Linked DNA regions of Homo sapiens: region 2 is linked to region 1. A link means that fine-mapping ties the variant in region 1 to the expression of a gene that starts in the linked region. Tissue or cell type: testis. Region 1 holds a variant in brackets; the other region holds the start of a gene. All regions are shown on one strand. Distances are between the middles of the regions.

Region 1 (10,033 bases):
CCCACAGTGATGCTGTGGGCAGTGGAGGAGGCTACAGTGATCCCAGGCAGGGGAAGGTCCCAGCCCTCTGGGCTCAGACACTTACTGGGCCGCTCCTATGGGAAGCAAAGCACAGCAGAGTCCTCTGAAGTGACGCAGATCACCCTGTCAGGGAGCACTAGCTCACTAATTTACATCCAATGGTCATGAATAATTCCAAAGACTTAAGGTGCTCTGCCCAAGGGTGGCAAGTACTAGAAACTTATCATATCAAGTTTGGTTCCAACTTGCGTACTAGTGGGGACAAATGGAAAAACACCTTTTGGGTGATTAGGAAGCAAATTGTGAGAAACTGGCAGCAAGGGTGAAAATATTAGAGAAACTACTACAGCTAAGCAAGTTTAATGGATTGGAAGATGCTAGAACTTTCTAGCAGCGTACTATGGGAAACATCGCAAGATCTGAATCTGAGTCCTGGCTCTACCACATATGTGTATCTCAACTAACTTTCATGAGCTTCAGTTTCCTTATCCGTGGACTGGGAAAGATAGATCCTGCCTGGGACCACTGTAGCCTCCTCCACTGCCCAGAGCATCACTGTGGGGTCTTATCAAGGCAAGCAGGAAGAATGGTCAGGATTGTCCCCATCGCTAGACCTTCCACTTCTTCCTGCGTTGCTCCTTGGCTGAGACCCCTGGCCTCCCTTTTGCATAGGGAGTTGTTATTGGAATTCCAGATGAGACAAAATGTCACACTAAAGCATACAAGAACAGTCATTACATTGCTCTATTAACATAAAAGGGATGTCTGGATAGGTTTCCCAAAAAGAGCCATTTATTAGATGTTACTTAATTTTAATAAACCTATCTCCTCATCTATAAATGGGGCTAAATTAAGAATACCATGAATTTAAAACAATGATCATGAGGATGATAGTTATAATAGCAAGTGCTATGTGCCAGGCATTGTTTTATGTGCTTTATTAGTAACTACCATGGAAATAAAACCTACTTAGGTGGTAATATCATTATCCCCATTTTATAGATAAGCTCATGCCAGAAGAGAATTTAGTAACTTTCCCAGGGCCACACAGTGAAACAGAGACCCCAGATTTGAGTCCATATTCTTAACCACTCGCCTGCACTATGCTACCTCACAGCACTCGAGACAAGCGTGGCATGCAGCAGTGCTTCACCGTAACTCCGCCACTGGCTGCACTCCCTCCTCCCACAAAAGGGGCCAGAATCAAACAGAGGCTCATCCTCTGACCTCCTGACGGTACGGCTCAATGATCATGATTCGATCATGAGATTTAAATCAGAAATGCAGAACAGGACTCATGAACACTTACTGCCTCAAAAGACGCAGTTAAAATGCCACACCTTGGTCAATGTTTCCCTAAAATCCTCAGCCTCCCTCACGAGACGTCTGCCACTTCAATGCTGCTGGTCTGGGGACCACGCTTGAAGAAGATTCAACTATATCATCTGCTGTCATCTTCTCCAGGTGACAGGCTTCAGAGCAGCAGGCTCCAAGCTGGCAAGAGGAAACCTACCTATCTAGGGAGAAGGTGGTCCTCTAGTACTCTTCATAATACTTACTTTTTTGGGGAAACGGACTCTTCTAACATGGTTGACTCCTCATCACCTTCTAGTCCAAATCGATCTTTACTTTGTTTCTGGAAATGCAATAAAACAAGATGCAAAAATGAAAACCAGGCCACGCGCGGTGGCTCACGCCTCTAATCCCAGCACTTTGGGAGGCTGAGACGGGCGGATCACTTGAGGTCAGGAGTTCGAGACAAACCTGGTCAACACAGTGAGACCCCGTCTCTAATAAAAAATATATATATACATAAATCAGCCTGGCATGGTGACAGGAGCCTGTAATCCCAGCTACACCGGAAGCTGAGGCAGGAGAATTGCTTGAACTGGGAGGCGGAGCCTGCAGTGAGCCGAGACAGCGCCACTGCACTCCAGCCTGGGCGACTGAGGGAGACTCTGTCTCAAAAAAAAAAAAAAAAAAAAAAAAAAAAAAAGAAAGAAAATCAGCAGGTCTTCATACAAGGACCTTTAAAAAAACATTTTGAAGGGACACAAGTCAAAGTGTTGAAGTTTACTCAAAATTCTTTATACTGGATATTTAGTAAGCGATGGATGAACAAAAGCATAATAATAAAAAAGAGAAATATATGATTTAATATATAGTTAGATGTCACGTATTTATTGCACAGACTTTAATTTTACATAGTAAAAAATCAAGATGCACATATTAACATTCTATTAAATCTTGGTTTTTTGAATGGGCTGTATCTTGAAGCCTTAAGAAATCTGTTTTTCTATATACCACTATGGCATATAACCCCATTACATTTGTTTAAAAAAAAAACATGAAAACTACAAAGATCATTTTTGGCCCCTCAATCCAAGTTCCCACAGAGGCTGAAAAGCACAGTACAGCTACGTGGAGAGGAAGATGCTGAGGGGTGCTAGGCTCATTCATTAGCTAAGTGACATGCTATTGTTCACTGCCTGGTAGTAAATGACACAAATATGTGCTGCAGAAAAAGCAGGAATTCTCAAAGGATCTTGAGGTCAAAGATCTCACACTTAATTAGTGATTAAAGATTAAATTAGTAAATCAAGTTTTGTTGTTTTTTTTTGAGATGGAATCTCGCTCTGTCACCCAGGCTGCAGTACAGTGGCGTGATCTCAGCTCACTGCAACCTCTGCCTCCCAGGTTCAAGCGATTCTCCTGCCTCCACCTCCCGAGTAACTGGGACTACAGGCGCCTGCCACCACGCCCGGCTAACTTTTTTGTATTTTTAGTAGAGACGGGGTTTTGCCATGTTGGCCAGACTGGTCTCTAATACCTGACCTCAGGTGATCTGCCTATCTCAGCCTCCCGAAGTGTTGGGATTACAGGCGTGAGCCACCATGCCTGGCCTCAAGTATTATTTAAGAGGATTTTTTTTTCAAGGTAGCCACGTCATCGAAACCAAGCCTTTTAATAAAGCCGTCTTGCTTTTCCAATTTGCATCAATACAAAATACCTTTTTCAGGATGATGTCAATGTAGCCTGCAATCAGCTGGGATATCTGCTCTCCCTCGGTGGTTTGTACTGAATAGTAGCTTTCCTGATACTCCCCAAAATCCTGAAAAGACAGCAATGGAGGAAATATAGCCAAATCAGATATATCAGCATTTTAAAGGCTAGCAGGTCCAGCTCTAGAACAATATGACATAGACTTCATTTTCCCTGCTCCTCCTCTCTAAATACAAATGAATATCCTAAAATTTATTCAACAATATTCAACAACGGTAAAAGAGCTCTGAAAACTGAGAAGACAGACTGGCTGGGGGGCTCAGAACTTGCAAAACCACAATGTGGTTGAGTTCTTGGGCTTCTTTCCTATCCCATATACCCCCAAGACTAAGAGTTGTAGAGGCCTGAACATTGGAACCTCCAGTAAGCAGTTCCTGAAAAGCATGCTTTTAGTCAAAGAACTAGGAGAAGGGGAGCCCAAGAGAGACTAATTTGGGGAACTAGTCAGGAGCTCCAACTCCAGCTCAACAACCTGGGCTGATATTCACAGGAAGCTGCAGAGCAGGGAAACCTCAGACCCTCCCAGGCCCTGTTCCACAACCCAGGCAGGTGGATGGTCTGACCCTTTTGCTGCAGCAGCCACAGTAAAGCCCTGTGTCTCCCTGCCCTCTAGCCAGTGGCTTAAAGAGACTCAGCTCCAGTGCCCTCTGCTTCCTGCAACGAAGGTCACCCAGCAATAGCAGGTAGCCCAGGGAAGTGCCTTCTGCCTTCATCGACAGAACCAACAGGGTTTGAGCAGGAACCTTAGTGTCAAAAGAAAAAATCAGTCCAGAATAGCAATGAAAGGGCTCAGAGAATAAAACTGTCATTGCAACTTAAGCCCTGAAAAGTAGGCCAGAATACTACACGCTAAACTTGAACAAAGTGGCCACCTGCTATAACAGAATATTTCAGTAAGATCAGAAGTCTCCCAATGGGCTGGGCACAGTGCTCATACCTGTGATCCCACCACTTTGGGAGGTTGAGGCGAGAGGATCACTTGTGCCCAGGAGTTCAAGACCAGCCTGGGCAACATGGTGAGACTTCACCTCTATAAATTTTTTTTTTTTTAATTAGCCAGGCATAGTGGCATGAGCCTGCAGTTCCAGCTCCTCAAGAGGCTGAGGGAGGAGGATCGCTTGAGCCCAGGAGGTGAGCTATGATCACACCACTACACTCCAGCTTGGGCAACAGAGTGAGAGACTGTCTCCAAAAAAAACAGGTCTCCTAATAACCAAGATGTCTAGGATGTCTTAAAAAAATAAATATTCATATCGAGAGCCAGGACACCCACAATATGAATGACAGATCATCAACTCATGCCAACACTGAAATAAATCAGATATTGGAATTATAAGGATTTTAAAGCAACCATCATAAAAATGCTTCACCAATAAATTGCAAATTCTCTTGCAGCAAATTTTAAAGAATAAAAAGTTCAAACAAAGAAACAGAAGTCATAAAAAAGAACCAAATGGAAATTACAGAACTGAAAAAGGCAATAACCAAAATTTTAAAACTCACAGGATAGACTAAATAGTAGTGTGGAGATAATAAAAAATAAAATCAGTAAACCTGAAAATAGATCAACAGAATTTAGTCAATCTGAACAATATAGAGAAAAGAAACTAAAAAACAGAGCTTCACGGACTTATAGGACAGTAACAAAAGATCTAACATTAATATCATCAGAGTAACAGGAGAGGACAGTGTTGGATAAAAATAGAGTAGCTGAAGAAATAATGACTGAAAACTTCCCCAAATTAGTGAAGACTTAAACCCACAAATTCAAGAAGCTGAGTGAACTCCAAATAGAAGAAATCTTAAGAAGCCCATACCCCTCCCCCTCCCCTCCCCCTCCCCCTCTCCCTCTCCCTCTCCCACGGTCTCCCTCCCCCTCTCTTTCCACGGTCTCCCTCTGATGCCGAGCCGAAGCTGGACTGTACTGCTGCCATCTCGGCTCACTGCAACCTCCCTG[C/T]CTGATTCTCCTGCCTCAGCCTGCCGAGTGCCTGCGATTGCAGGCGCGCACCGCCACGCCTGACTGGTTTTCGTATTTTTTTTGGTGGAGACGGGGTTTCGCTGTGTTGGCCGGGCTGGTCTCCAGCTCCTAACCGCGAGTGATCCGCCAGCCTCGGCCTCCCGAGGTGCCGGGATTGCAGACGGAGTCTGGTTCACTCAGTGCTCAATGGTGCCGAGGCTGGAGTGCAGTGGCGTGATCTCGGCTCGCTACAACATCCACCTCCCAGCTGCCCGCCTTGGCCTCCCAAAGTGCCGAGATTGCAGCCTCTGCCCGGCCGCCACCCCGTCTGGGAAGTAAGGAGCGTCTCTGCCTGGCCGCCCATCGTCTGGGATATGAGGAGCCCCTCTGCCTGGCTGCCCAGTCTGGAAAGTGAGGAGCATCTCTGCCCGGCCGCCATCCCATCTAGAAGTGAGGAGCGCCTCTTCCCGGCCGGCCGCCATCACATCTAGGAAGTGAGAAGCGTCTCTGCCCGGCCGCCCATCGTCTGAGATGTGGGGAGCGCCTCTGTCCCGCCGCCCCGTCTGGGAGGTGAGGAGCGCCTCTGCCCGGCCGCGACCCCGTCTGGGAGGTGAAGAGCGTCTCTGCCCGGCCGCCCCGTCTGAGAAGTGAGGAGCCCCTCCGCCCGGCAGCCGCCCTGTCTGAGAAGTGAGGAGCCTCTCCGCCCGGCAGCCACCCCGTCTGGGAAGTGAGGAGCGTCTCCGCCTGGCAGCCACCCCGTCCGGGAGGGAGGTGGGGGGGTCAGCCCCCTGCCTGGCCAGCCGCCCCGTCCGGGAGGGAGGTGGGGGGGGGTCAGCCCCCCGCCCGGCCGGCCGCCCCGTCCGGGAGGTGAGGGGCGCCTCTGCCCGGCCGCCCCTACTGGGAAGTGAGGAGCCCCTCTGCCCGGCCAGCCGCCCCGTCCGGGAGGGAGGTGGGGGGGTCGGCCAGCCGCCCCATCCGGGAGGGAGGTGGGGGGGGTCAGCCCCCCGCCTGGCCAGCTGCCCCGTCCGGGAGGGAGGAAGGGGGGTCAGCCAATAAAAAAAAAAAAAAAAAAAAAAAAAAAAAAAGAAGCCCATACCAAGAATTTTGAAAACTAGAGATAAAAATATCTTAAAAACAGCCACAGAAAAATGACATATTACCTACAAATTGACACCAACTTGAATGACAGCAAATTTATCATTAGAAACCATGGAGGTAAGAAAGAAGTGGCATGACACTTTTCAGATACTAAAAGAAAGGAACTGTCAATCCCAAATGCTGTACCTGGCAAAATTATCCTTCATGAATGAAGGGGAAATAATAACATTCTCAGAGGAAAAAAACACAAAGTCAATTTGTTGCTAGCAGATGTACCCTTAACAAATAGCTAAAGGAAGCTCTCCAAACACAAAATGATAACAGAAGAAGGCTGGGAACTTTAGAAAGGCAAGAAGAACAATGGGGTAGATAAAAATAAAGGGAAGTGTAATAGACGGTTCTTCACCTCATGAGTTTCTTTCATCACATTTTGTGTTCAAAGCAGAAGCTGTAACACCATCTTATGTGGTTATAGACAAAATAACCATCTTATGTGTATACTGAAAAAATATTTAAATAATTATACTCAAAAAGTGTGGGGAGTGGGTAGGTAAAAAGACCTAAATGGAAGTAAGGTTTCTACACTTAAGGGGGAAAAGCCATTACCAGTAGACTGTGTTTAATTTCATATGGACATGGTAATATCCAAAATAACCACTAAGAACACTACACAAAGTGATATGCTCAAAACGTAACACACAAAGCAAACAAACTCTAAAAAGGTGTCCAAGTAACCCACAGAAAAGGCAAAAAAAAAAAAAAAAAGAGAGAGAGAAATAAAGTGGACAAACAGAAAAACTACAAAATGATAGACTTGGGCCCTAACATATCAATAATTAGCTTAAATATAGTGTAAATATACCAATTAAAACTGAGATAGAATGGATTAAAAAAATATAACCCAACTAATTATGCTCTCTACAAGAATTCATTTCAAATATAACAGTATATGCAAGTTGAAAATAAAAGGATGGAAAAAGATGTATCATGCCCACATTAGTTTTATAAAAAGCATTGGTGGCTATGTCAACATTAGATACAGTAGACTTCAGAGAAAAACAAAAATTACTAACAGAAAATAACATTACATAAGGAAAAAACAACTTCTCTGTTAAGATAGAGGAATCTTAAATGTACAGGCATCAAACAACAAAGCTTCAAATTACATGAAACAAAAACTGAGAGCTGAAAGAAAAAGTAGAAAAATCCATAATTACTGTTAAGAACCTCACTCTCGGCAACTGAGAAAACTGCCAGGCAGAAAATTAACAAAGATATTCATTCAAAAGACTGGAACACCACCATCAACTAATAGGGATCTAACTGGTATTTATAGAGCCCACTTTACATGATAATAGCAGAATATATGTTCTTTTTGAATACTCGTAGAACACTCACCAAAAAGGATATCCTGGGATATAAAAACAAACCTTAAAATTTCAAAAGGACTGAAATCATACAGAGTATGTTCTCTGACCATAATGGAATCAAACTAAAAAATCAATAGTAGAAAGACAGCAGAAAAACCTCTAAACACTTGGAAATTAAATAAAGGCTAGGAGTAGGAAGGAAAAAATCACTACGTATAATGGGCTTTAATGTGACGTTATGCTTTAATCAAAATACTGTTATTCTCTCTTTTGCCTGAGGTAGTTAATGAGGTTATCATAACTATTCATTTTTTAAATAAATTTTTGTTTTCAATAAATACTTGGACCTAGTTTAAAAAGACCAATAGTATTACAAGATGTAAAACAAAACACAGTTGTTCCCTGTCCTACCCATTCCCAACTTCACTTTCTACCACATACCTCTCCAAAGGTAACCACTTTCAACTCTTTTAGCAGTTGCTTCTAGTATTTCTAAATAATATGTTTATATTGATTTCTTGATTTTTCTAATTTAGAAATCATCCATGACTTCCTGCAATGGAAGATGAGGACACAGCTAAGTATGAACATTCATCTTTTGAGGGCCACACAGGCACAAATGTTACAGCTACAAGAGGAAAGAAGGTATGTTTTCTGATGATTCCTTATAATTGGCAGGAACCTATCAATCTATAGTCAAATTAGATAACTAATGACTCTTTCCATGGCCCCTTCTTTACACAGTTTTTTTTCTGATGTCCTATTATGATATCTTGCATAGATAAGAGGTGATATTTCAAGCATTCACTAGAGACTTCAAGAGTCTTAAGAACTGACAAATTCTAGCACTTTTTGATTTTTCTTATTGCACATCTTGCCCTACCAACCACCCGCTCTATTGTGTTTCACATGTAAATGTGGCTATAGTTAAGGCATAGAGTTATACTCTGCTAACAACAAATGTTGAAATCAGGAGGAAGAATTCAGAGGTCTGAAGACCTGAAACAAACATATTCTCACTACTTTCCATAAATTTTATACTAAGCATCTTATCTTCATCTTATTCAATCCTAGCAGCTCTGTAGGTAGGACTATCACCATTTTATAGCTGAAGAAATTAAGGCTCAGAGAGGAAAGGTAACTTGAACAAGGTCACACAGCTGGGAAATGACAAACTGGATTTCTATAATAATACTATCCTAAAGTCCACGTTATTTCCACTGTGTACTATGCTCTCTTTCTAGGCAGGCTGGGAAAACATTCCTCAGCAAGATAATCACAATGCTTAGGACCATCTAAAACAGAGAGGGGGCCTTTGTGTCTCAGAGCACTAGAAAGTTTCCTTTCAGTATATGCTAGGGATGTCATCAGGAACACAGAACTGAGAATCATCTGGGTGAGTGGCTTTTTCTAGATAATGAACTAGAGGCTGACTTATGTAGAGTGCAGAGAAGCAGTAGTGCCTGAAGAAACCCAGGCTTGCTGACCTCTCTTTTACTTCTGGACCCATCCCCTTCCCTGCCCATGGGCTTGCACCATCTTCCTCACTCCACGCTGGCTCTCCCAGGCCAGAGAAACCCAATGGGCAAGAATCTGGTCTTTCTCCTGTCCCCACAATATCACTCAAGGCCACGCTAGTGCTCTCCTTGCCCTCTGCCAGTCCCTACCAGTGTGAAGCTCTTGGGTGAGGCTGCCCAGCGCTTGACGGTGGTGAGGGGCCACTCCTGCAGCACTTCCTTGGTCTTCTCATCCACGCGCATCACCGAGTCTTTGGTGATCCCCAGCAGGCGAGGCACCAGCTTGTTCTTGCCTTTCATCTTCTCCTGAAACAGGAGATACCAAGAGTCAGTGCTCTTCTTCTGAATACATCTGACTTTGCCAGGGAATCAGTGATTTTTTGACCTTTCACCTGCATACACTGTCTTTCAAAACAGGTAGGGCTATAGGGAAACCAAGATTTTGAGGCTAGGTGAATAACTCATTAAACTAAAGGCATGGGAACTCAAACAAAGACATGAGAAGACTGGAAAGAGCCACAAAATCATGCCCCCTGTTCAGGAGAGCAGCTTGCTCCAAAAACAGACGATGCCAGAAAGATGGGATAGAACTGAAAAGACATCCAGAGAAAAACAAGCAAAGGTGAATTCCAGGTACTATCACTCCCAGTGGCCAACTCAGTGAGTAACAAACAAGGGTTAATCTGAGATTTAAAATTAACTTAACTAAAACTCTGTCAAAGTAGAATCTTCTCATTATGAGGAGACACAGCTTCCTGCCCTTTTTTTTAAATCTCTGAAATATATTTCTGTTTGGATTCTTTGTTTTGGAATTTTGTATATCTACTGATTCTTAAAACTTATTTTATAACTAGTTTTAATAATGTTTTAAGATATAGTAATGTCTATTAAAATAATGGAACCCTAGCTCACACTCATACCAAAACAAATTAAAGACAGAGACAGATTAATAATTTAGGAAGAACATCCAAGTGGATATTTTTGTGATCCTTGGGTGACAAATGATT
Region 2 (10,033 bases), 300 kb after region 1:
TAATTGAAAATTTCCAAAGAGATAAGAGATTACAATGAGAGGCATCAGAGAAAGTAAGCGTGATACTTCCCAGTCTTTTTTTCTAAATGGTTGCTGGTGAGTTTCTTATCCATTAACCAAATATTTTTTAACTTGTTTTCATATAGAAAAGCCTGCGTGTTTGAACAAGTCAACCAACTGAAGCGTACATGGAGAAAGTTAATTACCTCTCCCTCCTCACTGCTAATCTTAAACAATATTTAAGTTTTGGGTGTCCTTACACATCTTTCTCCAAGGTCATACACATAGGGCTTCTTTTTTAAAATCAGAAATAAGGCCAGGCACAGTGGCTCATGCCTGTAATCATAGCACTTTGGGAGGCCAAGGCGGGTGGATCACTTGGGTCAGAAGTTCGAGACCAGCCTGGCCAACATGGTGAAATCTGTCTCTACTAAAAACACAAAAATTAGCCAGGTGTGGTGGCGGGTGCCTGTAATTCCAGCTACTCGGGAAGCCTAGGCAGGAGAATCACTTGAACCCAGGAGACAGAGGTTGCAGTGAGCCCACATCAAGCCACTGCAGTCCAGTCTGTGCGACTGAGACACCATCTCAAAAAAATAAAAATAAAAATAAAAAATCAGAAATACGGTCATGCAACATACATATGATACTCTGCAACTAGCTTTTATTTTATGTATTATTTTTAATTATGTTATGCACTACCCTCACAAAATAATCCATACTATGGATGTACCTTATTTTATTCATTTTACTGATGAACATTTGTTGCTTCTGGTTTATTTACTGAAAAAAATCCTACAACAGACACCCTTACACACAGATTCTTACATGTCAATGTTTTTCCTAATGTAAAACAAGGCTGCAAATGTGGGATTGCTGGCTCACATGGCACGTGTGCTCCAAACTTTCACAGAAATGATCTGCTTTTCCAAAAGGTTGTAGCAATTCACACTTATATCAATGGTCTGAGAATTCCCACCCTGCCCCATCGAGCAGAGAGTATTACCAACCTTTTAAAAGATGTATCAATTGTATGGACAGGAAATAATATCTGTTTTTAAATTTGTATTTCTCTGTCCACTAGAGAAGGTGAGAAGAGACACAATAATTTGCATCCCTTGTTCTGGGAACTGCCTGCTCACATCCTTTTCTCATCTTTTTATAATGTTGTATTTCAGTTACTATTTCATCACATTCTCATCTCCCCACCCTCTACCCCACCCCCGCCCTGGCTACTAGATACACAAAGTACAAAAGAGTATCACCTCCTCGGAACACAATGTGTGGGCATTGTGAGGGCAGGGGATGTCTTCTCAGCATAAAGTACATGGTAAACCCTCAAAAACATACACTGAATGAGTGAATAACAGACGTAGGGAATTAAGTTTGTTAAAACTGCAGCTAAAAGAGTAAAAAGAAAATACAAATGTTCATTCCTTGTTCTACATTTTCAGAACAGCATCAGTTTGACTGAAATTAAATTGTTGATTAAGAGAAAAACAAAACCATGGTCTTGGCACCGTCTCTGAAACTCCACTGTGAAATGGGTGGCAAATGAGCCCAGTCCTAATTCATAGCTCTGGGTGACATATAAAGACTCTCACAACTAAAGCATTTTGTACCCAACCTTGTCCACCAGCTGTTATTCAAATGGCACCTGCCCCAAGCCAAAGATTGTCAGGGTGGTCAACACACAAGAGAGGTCTACCTTAAGCATGTTATCTTCCCCTCCTCCACCCTGACTTCTTTGCCTTTCTCCAGGTTATTGAGGAGGGGGTGTGGGCCCTGCAGGGGAAATTTGACAGAGTTCACATTCCCTAACTCTTTGAACTTTAGGCAAAACATCTGGTCATACCCACCATTTATCCCTATTATTTGTAATAGTTATGTGTGGCTTATGTTTTAACTAGTCTCCTTATTAGATATAAAAGTAATACGATTAAAAAGTTCTGGGGAAAGTACTGTAATTAAAAAGGCACCAGTGGGTATGTTAAGCTGTAATTCCAGGCCTGCTTATTATGTTTTCCTTCTTGTCTTTAAAATTTTTGTACCTAATAAAAATAACTGAATTATTTAGCTCTTTTTGAGTACTTCCTGTACTGGCCAACGACCACTCAAAATCATCAGGAAAACATTATGACTCAAAAGTTCTGGAGCAATAATGTCACAGATCACAAGTTGTAGAAACTGTCTCAAGAGTCTGGACATGCCACACACACATCACAACACCACTACACAGACTGGTAAACAGACAGGCAACTTTCCAAAACACATACTCGTTTTCTAACCTTTTGAAGTTACAAAATCTTAAAAGGAAAAAAATGCAAGAATTTTGGTCAAGCCATGAAGTTATGATGATTAAGAATCAGGTTGGCCAGGTGCGGTGTCTCATGCCTGTAATCCCAGCACTCTGGGAGGCCGAGGCGGGTGGATCACCTGAGGTCAGGAGTTCGAGACCAGCCTGGCCAACATGGTGAAACCCTGTCTCTACTAAAAATACAAAAATTAGCTGGGCATGGTGGTGCGTGCCTGCAGTCCCAGCTACTTGGAAGGCTGAGGTGACAGAGCAAGACTCCATCTCGGAAAAAAAAAAAAAAAGAATCAGGCAAGAGGCAACAAAGCACGATGTATAACAATTTGTTGAGAGAGGCATTAAAAAAAAGATAAATATTAAGGTAGTAAACTTGGGAATAAAGATTGGAGGGTTTGCAATAAAGCTTCTCTTTTTTATTATGTAAGGTTTAACATGTATAAAATATATGTGGCATATACATAGTTACAAAGCATAACGCTAAAATGCATAAATACCTATTTAGATGCATAGTTTTTTTCTGAGCATAGTTGGTAAAAATTTATATCATTCACCACCTGTAATCGTCCTTTACTGCTCTAGAGAACTAACGATGTTCTGGGAGTGAGGGGTGAAGGAGGGGAAATCAGGTTAATTTTGAGAGAGAAAAGACAGATATTGACTAGAAAATAACATACTCACCTCTTCCTAAACCCTAATTTCACTTAAAAATACTCTAGGGAACAGTGTTTGGAAAAACCTGAATGAGTCAGCAGTAGATGAGTTCAAAACACATATATAGCCTATGCCTGTACAGAATATCCCTAGTAACTCATTCAACAGGGTCAAGTTGTTAAAAGTTCGCTTTCTCTTTCGAGGTAGAAGCTCCACATCAATGCCAAAAAGAGAGACCCTCTAATACTCTTTGGAATCTCCCTGATAACTTAAATGGTTACAAAGGCAGAGAGAAACCAGTGGCTTCCCCAATATGAAGAGACCTGTTTCTGTGATTAAGGTGCTCCCTCTAAGACTGGAAACTTAAAACGGATTGAGGCTTTCTGCAACTGATTTCTCTTCTAAATTAGCTATGCTAATTTTGGAAAAATATATCTTGGGCTCTGGGTGTTTTCCACTATTCTAGTGCTCAATGAAAAAAAAAAGGCATTCGTGTAGGCATCCCTCTTCTCTCAAGACCACTTGTCACACCCACCGCCATCCTCTGATTTTGCATAGAGGTCCCAAATAAGCAATCAAGGTAGGTAAAATCTTGGCTGACATTCATATCGGAGTCACTTTTGCAGGCGCTTCATGAAATGAATCAGGGAAAGAGCTGCCTAACACCTAACATCTCCAGGCACATCTCCCACAGGAAAGCCTCTCCCCTCCCTCTGCACACCTAACCCCCAACCCCAGAGGTTTCTGTGGTCCCTTCTAGCCTCTTCAGTGAAGAAGACCGGAAGTGCCGACAAAACCTCAATACTATGACATCATTTCGGTAACACTCCAAGGAGAACACGTTCCTGCAATTGGCTGCCTGTAGGTTGGCAAACACGCCCGTGCCCTGTCCCATCACAAAGCAGAGGTCACAGTCTACTTCAAAAGTAAAGATTCCCCACTCCCGCTTCCCCCTCACTCCAGAGAGGTCGCTGCCTCCAAGCTCTGGAGAAGGGAGGTCAGCGTGCAACCTTACAATGCCACAGCTTAACACACCCAGGTATTATTAATGGAAAAGTAAGTGGTACTTACAGCACCAGGGCAATTTACGTGTATTTTGGGGACCACTTCTCCAAGACATCATCCCTACCCAACCGTCTTTAATTATGTCTTTGACAACGCCAACACTTCAGTTCATTCCTCTCTCATCTTCTGGAAAGAACCAGAAGTTTTCACTATGAGACACAGGAATTCTGGCCTAAGTTGTCCCAGCTCTTCAAGGACAGCAAGAATCCAAGTTTCCCCACGCGTCACCTGAAGCCCCAACTTCTGGAAACGCCCTCCTTTCCTCGCCTCTACGAGCTGCGAGAGCAGAACACGCAGCCGCGGGCGCTACTGCTGTCGCCGCTAAAGCCAAAGAGGCGACTGGAAGCTCAGGCTGTTCGGCGGCCTCGGGGCGACCACAGGCCAGGCCCTGGTCCTGATCCACGAACCAAGGCGCCTCCTCTCCCCCAGGAAGTGAGCTACTGCGCCCCTCGGAGCACCCAGGCGAGCCCGGGCACCGGGAGAACGCTCTACACTCGGCGCCCAGCCCCGGGACGCCGCCCAGCGCACGGCTCCGGCTGAGCACCCGGGCAGCGGTAGCTGCGGGGAAGAGGGGCGTGTTCCCTGAGCCTCGGAGCCCCAAGGCCGGGTCCAGGCGGGACAGAGGAAGGCGGCAAGCCCAGCACGCTGTCCGTGACGGCGGCTCTCGTTCCCAAGCCCCGCCGGCTGGCGTGGCGACGCGCTGTAGTCCGCGCGCCCTTGCGGGGACAGCAGTCGTGCGCGCCTTGTGCGGCCGCCTCCGCGCCTGCCTCGGCGCGCAAACTTTCCCGGCGACAACCGATCAGGCCTCTCCGACTGGGGCGCGGGGCTCTCCCCGGGACCCAGAAACTGCTCGCCCCCTCCCCTCCGCAGTCAAGACCCACTGAAAATATGGCGCCCTCGAAAGTCGTTCCTCGGTCCCCTCAGGGATCCCGAAATACTCGTCTCCAGGTCCCTCCAGCTTCCAATGGGCGCAAAATTTCAGCTCGTGGGACCGAGGAAGGAGAGGGAGCCGCTGAGTCTGTGTGAGGCCAGCCGCACTGGATGCAAAGCCTGGCCCCGCTCTCGGCCCGGCACTGCCCCCGTCGCTCAGCGGCCAGCAGTTCGCCCGTGGCGAGATTGCCAAGTAAAGGGCAGTCGTGGGATCGGCAGGTCTGAGTGTCCGGCACCGGAGAAGGAACTCCGCACTGGCGGGCTGTCTTAGCCCAGAGCCTCGGCGGGAGACTTGTTTGCAAAGTGGCGCTGGAGTCCCGGCGGCCAGTGCTGGAATGAAGCTGCTCCTCCAGCGCCAACTCTTCTGGCGCGGGGGCCCGGCTGGGGTCGAGGGGACACTCTATGCAGGCGGGGCCGCTTTTCAAAGCCCAGTTACCGGAAACCCAGCGAGAGCCCCGGAGGGGACCGGCTGCCCACGGCCAGGAATCCGCTCTCTGGCGCCGACTGCGAGGCTGTTTGCAAACCGCTGCGCCCGGGTCCGGTGCAGTGAAACATACATGTGCAATAGACAGGTGCATTAATTTCATTTTATTTTTATTTTCCTGCAAGAAGCCCTCCTAGACCATCAAATCTGGGAGCTTTACGGGTTTTTCCTGCATTGGCATCACTCACGAGAAGCAAAAGGGAGGAAAAAAAACCCCACATTTTCCTTCTGGAGAGGGGAGGGAAAAGACACGAGAAATTCATGCAACGTGCATGCAGCTGGAGGAAGAGGAAAACCCGAGTGAGCCGTGCGCCTTACCGGGGGATGCATTTACTGTCTCATTGCAGAGCGCCTGCCCGGGAGTGCAGCCCGCGTCCCCCCGCGCGCTGGGCGACCACTCCGCTCCCGCAGCCGCCTCAGCCGCTGCCGCCGCCGCTGGCTCCGGGCGCGGAACAAGAGCCGAGGGCGAGCGCGAGCGCACTGCCCGAGAGCGCTGGGAGGGCAGGAAGCGCGTCATCATTCGGGGACGGCGCGGCGCCGGTCCGGCCGCGGCGCCGCGCGGCACCGGGGTGGGCCGCCACCGAGGCTCAGGCGCCCGTCCTGGGTTTCCTCCCACGCGTGGTGATGCTGAAAGGGTCCGCGAGGGAAGGTGATGCACCGGCCGAGCTGTCACGGGGAAGGGAGGCTCGGGGTGACCCCGGCTTCCCAGAATTGGGGCTCTGCTGTGTAAAGGGGATGACTGCAGGACACAGCGTCTTGTAGGCTGGGGCCCCTAGGTCCGCAGAGTGCCCTCTCGGGACCTCTGGCCCGGTCCTGGGGGAAGCGAGCTGTGGCTAACTGGAGGGCCGTGGTGGGCGGTGGGGTCTTGCTGCGAAGCGGAGGGCCGTGACCCCAGGCGAGCCTGCTCCTTTCAGCACAAGGACCCTGAAACCTTGCTGGTCAGGTGTCACTTAGGTATTTAGAGAACGACTATAGGGATGAGTGGCGGTAGGGGCGTGCTGTGTTGATAAGAAGAAAATAATTCACTCCTGCTTGCCATGCCCTGAATAAAGTCAGTTATATACCTCTTACATTTACAGTCATTATTAGTAAATACTGTAAATACCATGGAACAATGTGAAGGTTATTCAAGGGGGTGAGGAGACAAAACACTATGTACCGTATGGTCCCGTTTTTAAAAACTGTGATTTATGGAGAAAGGCAGAAAAGACTGGATAGATAAACACCAATAAGTCTCTCAGTGATTGGTGGAATTGTGAGTAATTTTACTTTTTTATTTATCTGTAAGGGACACATTAGTAATTTAAAAAAACAAGAATTAGCCATGACCCCTTTACTCCTAGTACTTTGGGAGGCCAAAGCAGGAAGATCTCAAGCCCAAGGAGTTTAAGATCGGCCTGGGCAATATAGCGAGACCTTATCTCTACAAAAAAAATTAAAAATCAGCCGGGTGTGGGGGCGCATGCCTGTAGTCCCAGTTACTGGGGAGAATGGTGGGAGGATCGCTTGAGCCCGGGAGCTCGGGGGCTGCATGAGCGGTGATCCTACCACTGCACTCCAGCCTGGATGACAGAGCGGGACTCTGTCTCAAAAAAGAAAAAAAAAAGGAAAGACGACATTATTTCCATCCCAATACAGAATGGACCAGGAAATAGGTAGCAAATCTATTCAGTTACTCAAATGGAACTGCTGGCAACTTTTTAGTGTTTCTCAGAGAAAGAAACTGCTGTCACCATAAACCGGAGACTGAATTGATTTTGTAAATTGAAATTATTTTGAATAAGTCCGTTGGAACATTGGATAAGGCTGGACATTCTGTGAGAACAATACCCTGTCCTTAACCAGGCTGATGAACCGGACTGTATGTATCATAGCAGCAAAGATAACCTTAGGGTACAACTTTGTAACTTATTGCAGAATATAAACTGTAAAGCTAACAAAGTATACATTATCAATGCACAGTGAGAGAACCAATTACTTGGCAACTTGAGAAAGTCCTAAAAATTGCAGGGCACAATTTCTCATTGTACAGGTAAAGTATTTTTGTTCACCACGCCTTTTTAAACATTCACCAGTCTCACAGAATAACTAGTGGTGGCAACAAGCCACCTCAGGGGTTGATTAAAAAGTACATGTTTATTGATTTCTGTATGAGCCTGGTAATAAGCTCACTAAATTAATGCCACCTAAATTGTTCCTTGGTTTACTAACAAAGAATAACCATATTTTTATGGTCCAAATGCCAGGTTTACATAAGAGGCTCATCAAGAAGGAAAGGAAAAAATGGTTGCAACTTAAGTGATTTTCCCCTTCCACTTAGTCCTCCGTTCATAGGGCCCAATAGCTTCCTATCAAGCATCTCAAAATCTTTCTGACACCTGGATTTCAAGATTTTCCATTACTTAATGCATCCTCTTGAAAGTATCCCCACACTTTTCCACTACCCATCAGCGGGATGCCATTCAGTAATGGAAGCTACATTCCATGAGAGCAAGAACCTCATCTGTATCTCTGTGCCTGAAGGAGCCTGACACATAGTATTTAATAAGTACTCAATAAAAATCTGCTTTATGAAAATAGCCTTATTTGTTCACTACCTATCTTACTAGTTCCTGAGATATTTGAAAAGTTATCTATTCTATTAGAGTGTCAGCAAAATTCTGGGATGCTGAGATCCTGTAGAGTTATAGCCTTGGTTTGGTTCAGTTACTTTTCAAAGTTCCAGCTAAATCCTAAGGCATTCACAAGGGTGAGGTGCAGGTGTCTGAATATTTGGGCATTAATAAGCCAGATAGCACTATTCTGTGGCTTTCCAAGGTCAATTAAATTCTTTCCCCCAGTGAGAAAGAACATCAGCCTTAGAACTCAGCTTTAGTTCTAGCTTCAAACCAATTGGCTTTGGACACTTCTTAATTTTACAGCTCCTGGTTTTTCTAACCACTCTTAGGGCTCTAAAAACCATTTACTGTTTTTTTAGAGAAATCAACTAACCATTCTACGTCCTAGCATTATATTTTTCAAAAATTTCCCCAGTAGAAGTAAAAGCAATTTTACCAGTAACCTTTACTAACTTTTCTGAAATTGAGATGCCTCCCTAGACCTAAAAAAAGTTATTTCTAAATTTAGAGTCAGCTACTAGTAGTCGCTGTCTTTATTCAGAGTGATCATAGTTCATTGTAGACCAGCAAAAAAAAACTAAAAAAACAAAATCTAACTTTTTTTAACAAGATTACATTTTGGGGCTTCGTCTCTACCCAGCAGAGGAAAACAGGGTGGGAGATAAAACATTCCATCTAAGCAATTTCTCAAGCCTTACAGCCTCTTACTTCTGCCCAGCAGATCTTAAGTAGCAAAATAAATACACTTTGTATGAATAAAGAGTGGAACATTTGGGGAGGTAAGTCAAAGAGATAGCTTCCAAGTCACTTGTAATAAATATATCTGGAACGAAAAACCATTTTCTTCACAAGTCAGATTTGTAATTACCAAATTAGACATTGCTTGGTGCTAAAGAGCTGGATGCTGAGAGATTGCCCCTCTCCTCCCATTGCACTGAGCCTTAACCTCCTGAATTCCTGTTGAGCACTTGTAGGTATCTGGGGTGGCTTTGCTCAGCTTTCATAGCTGAGCAAACTCAACTGTGTCCATGTTGAAAAAATAAAAGAAATTCCACCAAATATTTTGTTATACTTTATTTATAAGAGAATATTTTGTGCCATAATAAAATATTTTAAAGGGCTCCCTTGATACAATACACCAACAGTTCATGATTTCCTCTCTTTCAAAAATGTTTGTATCCTTTCCTGAGAGCAAGGTAGGTAGGAACCACATTTTCTCAAAATTGTCCATCATTCAGAACCAGAGATGAAAAGAAGATACTTAGGCTTCTTTTGTAATTTGATATCTTTAGGTTTCTAGAAATCTCTCTACCTCTTTTCTGATAAGTTTTAGGAGAGTATATTAACCAAAAATTACAGGAGGAAATATTATCTGAGTTGTAGTACAGCATATAGTTCATAAGTTATTTTTAATTTATTTGAAAAGCAAATATTTGACATTTTGCAAAAATTAATATATTTTAGCTTTTTAGTTATCTCAAAGCATAGGACCTCATTTCATTTCTAACTATTCAGGATAGCATGACAGATACAGATTTAAATGTCCTATTTAAAAGAGGAAATTGGGCTGAGCATGATGGCTCATGCTTGCAATCCTAGCACTTTGAGAGGCCAAGATGGGAGGATTGCATGAGGCCAGGAGATCGAGACCAGCCTGGTCAACATAACAAGACCTTACCTCTTTTTTTTTTTTTTTTTTTTTTTTAAGAAAAAAAGAGGCTGGGCACGGTGGCTCACACCTGTAACCCCAGCACTTTGGGAGGCCAAGGCAGGCGGATCACGTGAGATCAAGAGTTCAAGACCAGCTTCACCAACATAGGGAAACCCCGTCTCTATTTTTAAAAATGCAAAAATTAGCTGGGTGCATTGGCACATGCCTCTAATCCCAGCTACTTGGGAGGCTGAGGCAGGAGAATCTCTTAAATTCGAGAGGTAGAAGTTCCTGTGAGCAAGATGGTGCTGCTATACTCC

Which allele goes with the higher level. Alleles are on the strand shown, and positions count from the first base shown. SD is a standard deviation of normalised expression in the study named.
For the expression in testis of the gene that starts at base 5,898 in region 2, T is the low allele of the variant in region 1 and C is the other (small effect, 0.30 SD a copy in GTEx).

The links. PIP is the estimated chance that this variant, and not a neighbour inherited with it, causes the effect.
Region 2: TLN2 starts here. The variant in region 1 is fine-mapped to the expression of TLN2 in testis (GTEx, PIP 0.92).

Annotation. Positions count from the first base shown.
Region 1 is chr15:62,685,940-62,695,972 of GRCh38, reverse strand. It overlaps TLN2 (talin 2), which reads right to left. Exons shown (of 59, transcript NM_015059.3): 12 at 9,177-9,332; 13 at 3,032-3,133; 14 at 1,581-1,657. LOC105370855 (a long non-coding RNA gene) reads left to right here and starts at 7,948. Exons shown (of 5, transcript XR_007064673.1): 1 at 7,948-8,154. RefSeq lists an enhancer at 4,639-5,493. The variant C/T (reference allele first, on the strand shown) is at 5,042.
Region 2 is chr15:62,386,415-62,396,447 of GRCh38, reverse strand. TLN2 (talin 2) reads right to left here and starts at 5,898. Exons shown (of 59, transcript NM_015059.3): 1 at 5,763-5,898. RefSeq lists enhancers at 4,876-5,490, 6,409-6,478 and silencers at 5,669-5,998, 6,046-6,242.